Linked DNA regions of Homo sapiens. The protein of the gene in region 1 purifies or fractionates together with the protein of each later gene. This does not show direct contact. Each region holds a gene or a part of one and is shown in the gene's direction. Other genes may lie near its edges.

What was found. Proteins that work in one complex are often made in the same cells at the same time.
Region 2: the proteins of SLC7A11 (region 1) and PPTC7 purify together in Homo sapiens (affinity purification with mass spectrometry; 2 studies listed by BioGRID and IntAct, with this or other methods). This does not show direct contact.

Annotation. Positions count from the first base shown.
Region 1 is NC_000004.12:138,163,058-138,169,980, reverse strand, and holds the end of SLC7A11 (cystine/glutamate transporter), read left to right. Parts: 3' UTR 1-5,884; downstream 5,885-6,923. UniProt on the Homo sapiens protein: Heterodimer with SLC3A2, that functions as an antiporter by mediating the exchange of extracellular anionic L-cystine and intracellular L-glutamate across the cellular plasma membrane.
Region 2 is NC_000012.12:110,545,280-110,552,949, reverse strand, and holds part of PPTC7 (protein phosphatase PTC7 homolog), read left to right. Parts: intron 1-981; coding exon 982-1,161; intron 1,162-6,871; coding exon 6,872-7,070; intron 7,071-7,670. UniProt on the Homo sapiens protein: Protein phosphatase that plays an essential role in mitochondrial metabolism and biogenesis. Positively regulates biosynthesis of the ubiquinone, coenzyme Q. Dephosphorylates the ubiquinone biosynthesis protein COQ7 which is likely to lead to its activation.

The DNA of each region.
Region 1 (6,923 bases):
GCATTTCCAATTCAGTAATTTCAATTTTGCTCTTGAAAACATTTAATATATATCCAAGACTGACATTTCTTTAGCTGAACCTAACGTTTGGGTCTCTGAGTGAATTTATAATAACTCCTTCCTTCCTTAGCATAGGGTTTTCAAAATTTGATTTATAATTCCTATTTCCAGTAAATATTGTTCATTTGTCCACATCTCTCCCTATGATATGTTGCTGGAGGTAAGAATTTCTTTCATATTCCTATTTTTTTTTTCCCCATAGACTAGGCTCATAGAATTTAAACAAGCAAATTTTCCTGAGCTTTTTCTTGCCAAATGAAAGAAGACTGGTAAATTCTCATAGAGAGGTTTGTGTAGTTCTTGGCTCTTCCTGGGGTTAATGTGCTTATATTCACAGTGGCAAATTGGTCTCAGACTTTAATTTATTTATTTTTGATTTGAATTTCTCTTTAAAAGTATCAATTTAAAAGGTAACTAGAATTATTCTTTCTCATTTTCAAAAGTGATTTTTGCATTATTAAATTTCCCTGCCATTGTAATGCCATTTCACGCAGAAAAAAAGTCAGCCAGTAATTAAGAAAAAAAGTGATGGAGATTAAGTAGTATTTTGGCTTATTTTTAGGACTCATCATGAGAAGACACAGTTCCTTTAATCAGGAAATTAATATCCATAATTTTCACTCAAAATTGCAGTATGTAAAGCAGATTCTCAAAAACTCTCCTGAACACTTATTTATATATATGTTTTTATATAAGTAAAATTTTTCTCATATTTTTATACGATATGCACACACACACATACATGCACATACTACTTACTACATGTTCTGTACTTGTACTTTGTACCATGCATATTCAAATGTTTATATACATAAGTTTATTATAACATAAACAGTAAAAGTAATGAATACTGTTTAAAATAACTAATATAGTATTTTTTAATTTTTGTGGGGATGGATTCTCAAATACTTGTGATTTTAAAAGATTCTAAAGCTAAAACACAACTTGATTTTAAAAAGAATGATTCTCCTTACACAATTATAAATATTTGCAGTAAATATTTTCCTTATAATACTGTTTTGACCCCATTTAAAAAGTATTAGATTATATTCCTTTGATCCAATGAAAACTGAACCTTATAAATGGTTAGCTGAAAGTAGACCTTATTCTTGTCCTTCTTTAGAAGAGTAAAGATTTGTCCTAGGGAAGATGGCTGACTTCGGTTCCCAACATGCGTATGCATTTAGACTGTAGCTCCTCAGCCCTGTGGACACAAAATTTGGACAGCTTATTAGGTTACGTTAGCAATGCATGACGGTTTCTCCAACACTAAGATATTCACGTTGAAACAGATTTCCTGTTCGTCTTATGTGTCTGGTAAAATTGTTTCCCCAATTACAATTTGACATATCAATAGAGGGTTAACAAGAGTATAATTACATAACAGAATTCCTCATGAACTGTAATCAGTCTACAGGAAAATCATTATTTTATCTTGATTTGCAGATGAATATACTGCTAAGAAAGGGAGCAACTCTGACCTTTGTTAAAGTTGATCTTTTGTAATTGAGGTATAAGGTATGAAAAGATAAAAAACCGAAGGCCAGAGAATCAGGAAATGAAAGATAGTATGGACTGAAGGTAACAATATTTTAATGTTATGCAATATAGTCAGAGAAATATTAAAAATTAGTTGTTTGCTGTGCATAGGTGGATCTCGCAGGAAGCTAATGAAACCTAAGCTTCAGTGCCTCTCACTTAGACATGTTCCATTCGAGGTCCTGAACCTAACTTTGTATTAGGAATTCTGTACTAATTTTGTTGAAGAAGACCAGCAAAGTTGTGTACACTTCTACCCCCACAAAATCTGCATTGTCCATGTGAGTAAAGTAAAATAATTCCTGTTATTTTTTTCTGTTAGAAATAAGTATGGAGGATATGTTTTTAAAAATTTATGAGTTAATTGAAATATCCATATATAACAAGTGACTTTCTCACAATATATATGATGTGATATATAGGGAGATAGTTTCACTTTCATCATATTTTATACGTTGATTCTGAACTATAGAAAAATAATAAATGGGATTTTAATTATAGCTCTTAGTTGGGAAAGAAATATAGAGAGATGTGGGATTTGAATGCCCATGAAAGACATTTTATTTTACTTGAATATATTCTTGCTTCACTTTACCCTCCATAATATGTTGTACATTAGTGCTGATCAAGTTTACAGAGTTACATTTTGCTTTCCTAACCATTCAGTCAGGAATTAAAATATGGCATTGTATAACAACTGGGAAGAAGCTCATAGTGGATATAAATTAGAGTAGATAATGGGTCACCTTGATAGCCTCTGTTTACATTACTTGTATATGGGCAAAATAATTATTACCTATACGTGTATTTAAGCTTAATTTTCATATAAACAGTATTTTTAATCTATGTTAAAATAGATAATATCTAAAAGTGTGATCTCTAGGTAGTCCTTAGTTTATTAGTACTGTACTTCAAAAAGATTTTTAAATAGGTCCGGCACGGTGGCTCATGCCTGTAATCCCAGCACTTTGGGAGGCTGAGGCGGGCGAATCACCTGAGGTCAGGAGTTCGAGATCAGCCTGGCCAACATGGTGAAACCCTGTCTCAACTAAAAATATAAAAATTAGCCGGGCGTGGTGGCAGGCGCCTGTAATCCCAGCTACTCGGGAGGCTGAGGCAGGAGAATCACTTGAACCCAAGGGGCAGAAGCTGCAGTTAGCCAAGATCGCATCATTGCACTCCAGCCTAGGGGACAAGAGCGCGAGACTTCATCTCAAAAAAAAAAAAAAAAAAAAAAAAAGATTTTTAAATAATAGCTAAAGGTATGCTCTCTAGGTCATCCTTAGTTTATTAGTACTGTACTTAAAAATTATTTTTTAATAGTCAATTTTGGGAGATAATTATTTCTTTCCTTATATTTTCCAATTAGTTGGTGTCTAAAAATAAATGTTTTGTCTAATTTTAGATCAGGTATACATTCACAAAAGCATAAATCATAGTCTCACAGGAAATTCACCAATTTTCCATATGTCGTGAGATAACTGTCCTTTCTACAACCTCATAACAATGAATTTATATAATTACCTAGATTTTCTTAGTGTGAATCTACCCATTAGTTTTATTTTCTTGGTAGTTATTTTTTTCCCTCCTCTCTGTTACTATTGGCCTTAAAATACACAGAGGACGGTTACAGTGTCCTAATAGCTGTTACATGTGTGTGTTTCAGCGTACTTGAATCAAGTGTACATTTATAGTACCAATAACCGCCTTTACAGCTTTACAGTTAACAATTCTCTCACAAAACTGTAGAGCATTAGGCATCTGAGAGCCATAGAGGGCCAACTTTGTTCCAGAGTGAACATGCTTTTTTTCCTCAACATATACACTACTGATTTTTTTTAAAAGTATGACTTTCAAGTGAATTAATGTATTGGTTAGGAGAACTGCTTGCTAAGTCCTTATTACCTCTTGTTAAAGCCTCAGAAGGCCGTGCTGAAAGCCAGAGGGGAAAAAAAGAGTAATGCACAGGTATCTCTTTTGCAGTGGTGACTGTATTTTGAGTACCTTGTGTGACAGGGTATTATTACAGCATCTTGTGGGAAAACCTATTAGGCCTTTGCATGTTAAAGCTGTATAATTTGTTGGGTTGTGAGTGGTCTGACTTAAATGTGTATTATAAAATTTAGACATCAAATTTTCCTACTAACTAACTTTATTAGATGCATACTTGGAAGCACAGTCATATCACACTGGGAGGCAATGCAATGTGGTTACCTGGTCCTAGGTTTGAACTGTCTTATTTCAAAAGATTTCTGAATTAATTTTTCCCTAGAATTTCTCCTTCATTCCAAAGTACAAACATACTTTGAAGAATGAAACAGATTGTTCCCATGAATGTATGCTCATACTCGACTAGAAACGATCTATGTTAAATGACTGTGTATATGAATTATTTCAAGTACTACCCCAAATAACTTTCTTATTGCTCTGAAAGAAGAAAAGCAATGTAAATCACTATGATTATTGCACAAACAACCAGAATTCTCCAACAATTTTAAGTAATCTGATCCTCTTCTTGGAGAAAATTGTTACCTAATAGTTTTTCCTTATGAATGTTATTACTACTGGTATAAATCAAATTTCTATAAATTTCCTACTTAAGTCTTAAGAACTGGGTTCTTCCTTTGATGTTATTCATGTTCAGAAAGGAAACAACACTTTACTCTTTTAGGACAATTCCTAGAATCTATAGTAGTATCAGGATATATTTTGCTTTAAAATATATTTTGGTTATTTTGAATACAGACATTGGCTCCAAATTTTCATCTTTGCACAATAGTATGACTTTTCACTAGAACTTCTCAACATTTGGGAACTTTGCAAATATGAGCATCATATGTGTTAAGGCTGTATCATTTAATGCTATGAGATACATTGTTTTCTCCCTATGCCAAACAGGTGAACAAACGTAGTTGTTTTTTACTGATACTAAATGTTGGCTACCTGTGATTTTATAGTATGCACATGTCAGAAAAAGGCAAGACAAATGGCCTCTTGTACTGAATACTTCGGCAAACTTATTGGGTCTTCATTTTCTGACAGACAGGATTTGACTCAATATTTGTAGAGCTTGCGTAGAATGGATTACATGGTAGTGATGCACTGGTAGAAATGGTTTTTAGTTATTGACTCAGAATTCATCTCAGGATGAATCTTTTATGTCTTTTTATTGTAAGCATATCTGAATTTACTTTATAAAGATGGTTTTAGAAAGCTTTGTCTAAAAATTTGGCCTAGGAATGGTAACTTCATTTTCAGTTGCCAAGGGGTAGAAAAATAATATGTGTGTTGTTATGTTTATGTTAACATATTATTAGGTACTATCTATGAATGTATTTAAATATTTTTCATATTCTGTGACAAGCATTTATAATTTGCAACAAGTGGAGTCCATTTAGCCCAGTGGGAAAGTCTTGGAACTCAGGTTACCCTTGAAGGATATGCTGGCAGCCATCTCTTTGATCTGTGCTTAAACTGTAATTTATAGACCAGCTAAATCCCTAACTTGGATCTGGAATGCATTAGTTATGACCTTGTACCATTCCCAGAATTTCAGGGGCATCGTGGGTTTGGTCTAGTGATTGAAAACACAAGAACAGAGAGATCCAGCTGAAAAAGAGTGATCCTCAATATCCTAACTAACTGGTCCTCAACTCAAGCAGAGTTTCTTCACTCTGGCACTGTGATCATGAAACTTAGTAGAGGGGATTGTGTGTATTTTATACAAATTTAATACAATGTCTTACATTGATAAAATTCTTAAAGAGCAAAACTGCATTTTATTTCTGCATCCACATTCCAATCATATTAGAACTAAGATATTTATCTATGAAGATATAAATGGTGCAGAGAGACTTTCATCTGTGGATTGCGTTGTTTCTTAGGGTTCCTAGCACTGATGCCTGCACAAGCATGTGATATGTGAAATAAAATGGATTCTTCTATAGCTAAATGAGTTCCCTCTGGGGAGAGTTCTGGTACTGCAATCACAATGCCAGATGGTGTTTATGGGCTATTTGTGTAAGTAAGTGGTAAGATGCTATGAAGTAAGTGTGTTTGTTTTCATCTTATGGAAACTCTTGATGCATGTGCTTTTGTATGGAATAAATTTTGGTGCAATATGATGTCATTCAACTTTGCATTGAATTGAATTTTGGTTGTATTTATATGTATTATACCTGTCACGCTTCTAGTTGCTTCAACCATTTTATAACCATTTTTGTACATATTTTACTTGAAAATATTTTAAATGGAAATTTAAATAAACATTTGATAGTTTACATAATAAATGTCGTCATGTTTTGCTTTCTTTTTAAGCAGTGTATATTCATTTAAATTGAAGGCCTTAGTTTTAATGATTGATTGAATTTATCTATTACTGATTCCCCAAATTTGTTGGAGCATCCCACTTTACACCAGTTTCCTGTACTAAAAACTGGAAGTGTTGGCAGACCCAGTCTCCTGGAAACACTCTTCTTTTCTTTCTCATGGTCTACATCCATCTGTCCTCTGGTCTGAAATATCTAGCTCCTCTTCTATTTCCACCTGTACAAGTTCAAAATCTTTTCATTTCAGGCCTTTAACAAGAATTTTGTCTTTTATCTCTTTACACTCTCAACTGTTTCCCCAGAATGTTCTTCCTGAAACTCAAATGAGGTCAAAATTTTCAATGGTTTCACATTTATATATATATATATATATATATTTTATTTTGTGGATGGATAAAATTCAAACTCCTCCATGTAACACATAGGGCTTTCCATCACCTGTCACCTTTCTTTCTCCAGCTTTCCACATTCTCGGCAGCCATATTAAATGTGTTCTCAGTGGTTCAATAGCAACAAAATATGATGCCATTATTTCTTTTTACACACTGAATACTCTTACAGGAATTAATTATATTTTCCTCCCCAACTCCCATCTCCTTATTCCACACACAGTTAACTTCTACCCAACATTTAAGTTCAAAAGTAACCTCTTCCAGAAGCCTTCCCCAAGTTGCTTTAAGACCTGACACCTGAACGCATTCATCATCTGGAGCACATCTTTTTTGTAGAACTCATTGAACACTGCTGTAATTGATTTACTGGACTCACTTTTCTGCCTGAATTTGCTGATTTTGTCTTTCGCCAACTGAAGCATAGTAGGTGCTCAATTAATATTTATTAAATGTATAATTTCAGTGCATGCATGAATAAATGACATTCATTAGGTTGCAGGGTTAGCTTTTTTATGATTAGCATAGAAGCAGGTTTTGTTACTCCTAAATTTAAGCAATCCATTAGCTTCTATGGAAACAGATTTTCTGTAAAAGCTACCTGCCA
Region 2 (7,670 bases), on another chromosome or scaffold:
TCAGCCTCCCAAAGAGATTTTACTTTTTTTCATACTAAGTTTTCAAAATCCACTGTGTGTGGTTTTGTTTGTTTGTTTGTTTTTTTGAGACGGAGTCTCGCCCCATTGCCCAGGCTGGAGTGAAGTGGCACGATCTTGGCTCACTGCAAGCTCTGCCTCGCGGGTTCACACCAATCTCCTCCCTCAGCCTCCCAAGTAGCTGGGACTACAGGCGCCTGCCACCACGCCTGGCTAATTTTTTGTATTTTTAGTAGAGACGGGGTTTCACTGAGTTAGCCAGGACAGTCTCGATCTCCTGACCTCGTGATCCGCCCGCCTCGGCCTCCCAGAGTGCTGGGATTACAGGCGTGAGCCACCGCGCCCGGCCCACTGTATGTTTTATACTTAGAGCATGTCTCAAGTTGGGCTTCCCTCATTTCGGGTGCTCAGTAACCATGTAAGGAATGGCTGTTGTATTGTACAGTACCGCCCTCTACAGGGTAGAAGGAGAGGGGATGGGATATGTTCTCAGTTTTGTTCTTTATTTCCCAGCGATTGACCAATGTTTGGAGTTAAAAGGTTGCCGCTTTTGATGTTCTTTGTGATCTCCAGCTCTGACTGAATTGTATCGTCACTAGCATCAGCACTTTGCTTAAAAATCAATTTTCATTCTTATAAAAGACAAAGTATTAATGACACAAATATGTCTATACACAGATGCTAATCCTGCTGAAATTGAACTCTTGGCTGGTAGGCAATGCCACCCTGTGGTAGCTCAAAAGTTTATTCATCAATATATGAAAGGCCAAATTCTAAGTAGTGAATGTGGCTTAGGAGTGTTAGTGTAGAATACATTAAACGTGAGTGCTTTTTATTCTGAATTTTGGAGTGAATGTATGTAGTAGCATGTAGTGAAATTAACTGTTAGGAGAAAACAGAGGTAAGAATTCCTGAGAAGTTGGTAAGATTGTTCTTTTACTGTAATTTTTGTTTTTTCTTCAGGGGTTGCAGATGGTGTAGGAGGCTGGAGAGACTATGGAGTTGATCCATCTCAATTCTCAGGGACTTTAATGCGGACGTGTGAACGTTTAGTAAAAGAAGGACGGTTCGTACCTAGTAATCCCATTGGAATTCTCACCACAAGCTACTGTGAGTTGCTGCAAAATAAAGTCCCTTTGCTCGGTAAGTGGGTATCTTATGTGTTTTCCTCTAAAGAAGCCCCCTAGATAGTTAAAAACAAAACCAAGAAAATCATTTATCGGACCAGCTTTTTTCTGAGGCTCTTCCTACTAAGCAGAGTGTGATAGAGAAACTATAGGCTAACCGCTGGGCGCAGTGGCTCACGCCTGTAATCCCAGCACTTTGGGAGGCTGAGGTGGGCAGATCACCTGAGGTCGGGAATTCGAGACCAGCCTGACCAACATAGAGAAACCCCATCTCTACTAAAAATACAAAAATTAGCCAGGCATGGTGGCGCATGCCTGTAATCCCAGCTACTTGGGAGGCTGAGGCAGGAGAATCACTTGAACCCCGGGAGGTGGATGTTGCGGTGTGCCGAGATGGCGCCATTGCACCCCAGCCTGGGCCACAAGAGTGAAACTCCATCTCCAAAAAATAAAAGAGAAACTATAGGCTAACCAGAATACGTAGTACTGCTTGGAGGGAATGTGGATAGGTACAGCCACTTCGGAAAACAATTTGGTATTAAATATGAACATATAGTATGCCACAGCAGTTGCACTTCTAGGTGTTTACCCTAGACTAGAGAAACTCTTGCACAATACGTGAACCAAAAGATAGGTATGAGAATGTTCTCAAAATGTTGCCAATAGCAGAGAACTGGGGACAACCTAAAAGTCTATCTGTTGTAGAAAAATGCATTGTGAAAAGAAACGACTTAAAGCTGCATGTTCTACTCAGGAACATGTTGTGAAGGGAAGAGAGAACATTGCAGAATTCCACCTGACAGTCTGATTCCATATATTTCAAGTTTAGAAACATAAAAAGTTAAAACTGTATTGTTGAGGGATTCTAAAATTTGGTAAAAGAAGAAAGAAGAGCAAGAGGAAAGAAAAGAAATGGTCTGGCCTGCAAAATTCAGTTCATTACCTGTGATGAGTTCAAGTTGTGTTTGGTCACCCCACACTGCTAACAGGTGATTAGTCGGTGAAATAACTTGGCACAAATTAGATCCCCGATAATCTTGTATTAGAAAACTTAAAACCAAGTATTTAGGGTTTGTTTATGTGGTATGCTAATGGAGCATCCTTTGGCCAGGCCTCTACGTTTGTTTGTTACATGATTTCCTGGGAACTTACCCAGCCTTCTAAGCAGTCTCTCAGAGAGGGTATTATTACGTTTCTGCTCATAGCCAGCATCTTTCTAGTTACTAGAAGGCCTCCTTCCCAGTCACCATTGACATTTAAAATCAGCCCCTGTTCGGCCAGGGGCGGCAGCTCACGCCTGTAATCCCAACACTTTGGGAGGCCGAGGTGGGCGGATCATGAGGTCAGGAGATTGAGACCATCGTGGCTAACACAGTGAAACCCTGTCTCTACTAAAAATACAAAAAATTAGCCGGGTGTGGTGGTGGGCACCTGTGGTCCCAGCTACTTAGGAGGCTGAGTCAAGAGAATGGTGTGAACCTGGGAGGCGGAGCTTGCAGTGAGCCAAAATCGCGCCACTGCACTCCAGCGTGGGCGACAGAGCAAGACTCCATCTCCAAAAAAAAAAAAAAAAAAAAAAAATCAGCCCCTGTTTAGCGTTAATGGAGATCACCACAGTTGTTATAGAATTTGCTTTCAGTTTAAGCCCTTTGTAAGGAGTTCTTTTTATCAGTCTGCTGTCTTCTGTCTTTGTGCTGTGATTAACTAACTTGTTTTCCTTCAAACTGAAAAGGGATCTTGTCTTGCAGTTTCAATATATACTGCTTTGTCTTAATTCCCTGTTTTGGACATGCAATCTGGAGCTTGTCTGGCATAGTGAAACATTCTAGATGCTATTTCTAGCACCTCTCTGTCAACTTGCTGTGTGACTTTGGGCAAGCCACTTAACCTGTGATCTCCTTGCTTCACATGTTAAATGGAGAGAGAGCCCCTAGACACAGATTCCAGGGGACTGCCTCCTGCATGTTCTCAAGAGTGGCTCTGCTGACCCTCTGACCCCCGATCATTTACTTTGACTTGAGATAACTGGTTACAAAACACGTAACCATCCTGATTTTACACTTTAGAAGCTTTGGTTTTTGCTGTGCCTTTTTCTTTTTCCTATTCCTACTTTCCCTTTCTGTTCACCCTCATGTAACTGGGAGATATTAATAAAATACATTTAAATTTAATATTAGAGAAAATAATATTTTCTTACATTGAATATTGTGATTACTTTTTTCTCCTAAAAGGCACATTGAAATAATCTTTCATCACCATGTTTGACACACCTTTTTTTCACAAAATCTACACATCTCTAGGCTGTTTGTAATGAAACTCAAGCATATTTTGACAAAGACAAGCTGCTGAGTTTTACTGAACTTCAGCTAGATATAATTGTAAATCATGACAACTTTACCAGATAAGTTAGTTAGGTAATTTTTTTTTTTTAATCCAGCAACTGCTAAAAAGCCTACAAAGCAATTCCAATATAAAAGGCAAGCTGGTAGCTGTAACCACTTATTTCTTTGACTTTCTAGCTGCGTTTGGGTCTAAGGGCATTACAGACTAATTGTTGGCATATATGATTTCCTCAGAAACCTTTAAATGGATTGATAAGGTCCTAAGCAGCCAGAGTATCTTAAGAACCTGAGGGGTTGGTCCTAATAAAGTTATCCCTTTTTCTGCCATACAAAAGGCTTAGTAGTAGTTTACAAAATAAGGAGCTGGGTGATAAAAATATTTCCATTTGAGCATGAGGGACTCGCCTGGGTTCCTGTCTATATGGGTCATTTGTCTAAACATCCTACACTGTGGTTCTCAGCACCGCTTTTCTTACTCATCTTTGCCTGCTTGTGCCTCTCCAAACACGTGAGAATGATTAGCTCTTCTCCCAATATTAGGCTGCTGGGGCCTGAGCCACGTGCACACATCAGGAATTTGAGGAGGCAAAAGAGGAGGGTACACTCCAAGCCCAGATGGTTCTGTAAGGCTGGGCTTATACTTGTTGGTGCTGCTTTGGATACTGAAGCTCAGTCACTCACCAGGACTGTTTTGATTCCAACTCAGCGAGTTACTGTCGCAGGGTAGCAAAGGATAGCCTGGCTTCGTCAGTGAGTATATAAGGAGTCACATGAGTCCTTCTTGCAGCAGAATTTTCAAGGATGTGCTACTCGGGTTGTTTTTCTTTCTCAGAATATAATCCCATGAGTTTTCAGAAGATGTTTTGGGTGGTGATCTATTAATGATAAAAGGTTAGAGTTGATGTGCACTGAGTTAGGAAGGAAAGGTAATGGGCAATCTTTGTCCTACTGTAAGCTATGGAGCGGGTTATCTGACAGCACTACCAGTGAGTTACAGTACCCGTGCTTTGCTTTTCGTTGACACTTAATGGCTAGCATAGTATGAGTTAGTACTAACGCATATACTGTAGATAACAAGGAAATGGAATTTCTGGGCATTAGCATGAGAAAGACATGTATATTTTTAAGTGTTTTTAAATTACTTTGTTAGGACAAAATTAATAATAAAAATTACCCATGATCCCACTAAAACAACTATTAATATTTGAGTGATTATGCTTTCAGATTTTTTTTCTGTGTGTATGTGTGCATAGAATAATGGTAACTTGAATTGAGTCTACTATGTGCCCACAACAGCCCCATGAGGTAAATACATAGGTACTTAATTTTATTCCCCTCCACCTTTTTTTTTTTTTTGAGACAGAGTCTTGCACTGTTGCCCATGCTAGAGTGCAGTGGTGCAATCTCAGCTCACTGAAACCTCTGCCCCCCGGGTTCAAACAATTCTTGTGCCCCAGCCTCCGAAGTAGCTGGGATTACAGGTGTGCACCACCACGTCCAGCTAATTTTTTGTGTTTTTAGTAGAGAGGGGATTTCACCATGTTGGCCAGGCTTAGTCTCGAACTCCTGGCCTCAAGTGATCCACCCGCCTCAGCCTCTCAAAGTGCTGGGATTACAGGCATGACCCACCACGCCTGAACTATTCTCCATTTTGTTAGGAAGAAACAAGTCTGGAGAGAATAAGTGACTTGCCATGGTCACATAGCTGGAAAATGATGGCACACTGGGATTTAATATGGCTGGTTCCGTGGCCCATTTGTGTTGTTTTCCTTTTAACCATCATTTTAATAATTTAGACTTTGCCTATTGCTTTTTTAAAAAAATTGACTTCTAGTAAACTTTACTCTTTTTGGTGTACAGTTCTTTAGGTTTTGACATCATCTTTTTTTGTTGTTGTTAAGGAAACTTTCATATGAGTTTGTAATCTACTTATTTTATAGTTATCTTTCCTTTCAAATATATTTTACATAATCTTAATGGCTATAAAATAGCCAACACTATCTGTTATAAGGGTTTGACATGACTTAACTAATTTTAATTCTTAGAAAAATTCTATGAGGTACTTACTGTTATCCCTGTTTTTGTGGATGAGGAAACTGGGGCACAGAGAGGTTAAGTAGTTTGCCCCATCACAGAGCTGGGAAGTGGCAGAGCTGGGATTCAGACACAGGCAGGAAGCAGGCTGACTCCAGAGCCTGTACTCCTGAGTATTACGTGATGGTGTATCTTTGCACTGTATGGATGTACTGTAATTTATTTAACCAGTCCCTTATTTTAGATGTTTAGATTGTTTCCAGTTCTTTCTCATCTTAAGTAATATTTTTGTACTTAAGTCTTGTTTGCCCTTCTAATTATTTTCTTAGCGTAAATTCTCAGAGATGGAATTGCTAGATGAAAGGAGGTACATTTTTCCGGGCTATCTTGCGCTCCAGGAAAGTTGTTTACTTTTACTTTTCACTCCCGCAGAATGAATGTTCTGTGCAGTGGGCATGTTCCCTACACTTTGCCAACAATATGCATTATCTTCTTTTGACTCGTGTTAAACTAATAGGTGAAAAGCGTTACTAGTGAGGTGGTCATTTTTTCATATATTTACAGATCATCTACACTTATTTCTTTGTGAACTGCCTGTTTTTCTATGTTGCCATTTTTCTGGTGGCGGTAGGTAGGTTTAACTGTTAGTACTTGAGAGTGGTCTCTGCTAGTTGTGCCATTAGCCTTTCAGTCTAGGGAAGATTCTGTGGCCCGTGCACAGCAAAGCTATGCAGAGTTCTTTGCCCAGAGTCTCTGTCGAATGAACAGGTTGATTCCACAAGCTGCCTGCAGAAATTTGGTCTTGTTACCTCATAGTGAGTGAGTCATTAGTCTCCAATAAAAGTTCTTCCTGACCTCAACAGATGGAAATCTGGTTTAAAATTGTAGTTATGTGCCCTGTCTTAAATGTGAGTGAATTTTGTGGCCAATGACTAATAAGAAATGTCGGGAAAATGTAACATTTTCATTCTGGCATTGAAGTATTAAAACTTAATATCTCAACAACATGTTTTTGAGCATTTGGCATAGATGACAGCACTGTTGAAATGAAATAGTGTGATTAAATACCAGTCATTTTTATTGCTTTCTGTCAATGCAAATGGAAGAATTCAGATCATCTGTGGCCCAATTACTATGTATAATACAAATCCTTTTTCTTTCCCCACCGTGTTAACCCTGATCAGGATTTTATTGATATTCGTAGAGGATGTGGAGCATAACTAAGAAAGGTCCTGTTTAGGCAAAGGAGATTGAAATTATGGTGTGTTGCTCTGTGGGGTCATGTGTTAAAATGTGTGTGCAAAGGCAGCCTAGGAAGAAAAAATAAATGGAGATGATTTTTGTTTCTAGGTAGCAGCACCGCCTGCATTGTGGTGCTGGACAGAACCAGCCACCGCTTACACACAGCAAACCTGGGCGATTCAGGCTTCCTGGTTGTCAGGGGTGGTGAAGTCGTGCACCGATCAGATGAGCAGCAGCATTACTTCAACACTCCATTCCAGCTCTCAATCGCTCCCCCTGAAGCCGAGGGAGTCGTCTTGAGCGACAGGTAATCTCCCCTCTCAGCCATTAAGTGTGAGCAGGACGTGGCTCATTCATAGTCCCCTCCTGTCCCCCTTGAGTGCAGTGAGGTAGGCATTTCCATGAAAAGAATACACTGAGAATGTTCTCATCAAGAGGACCTTTTAGTTTAACTTTGAAAGATACTTTTCTGGAACTAGATAATCTAGCTAAGTGGAATTCTGATAAATACCCAATAATTTGACAAGACCATGAAAATACTATTTCAGGCTTACAGAATATCAATTTTTCATATCAACACCACATGGTACATACAGTACTTTATTAAATTGTGCTGGAGAAATGAGTCATTGTTCATGCATGCCATTGCTTGTACAAGATTTTGCATACATTGTTAGGGAAGAGCACAAACAGACATCTGCGTTATTTATTGGAGTAACTTCCTGATTCTCTAGACCTCTTACTACATGCATCAAATAGAACTTGCAGGAAATGGAGTCAAAATGGTCTTAAGTGACTGGGCACGGTGACTCACGCCTGTAATCCCAGGACTTTGGGAGGCTGAGGCGGGTGGATCACTTGAGGCCAGGAGTTCAAGACCAGCTTGGCCAACATGGTGAAACCCCAT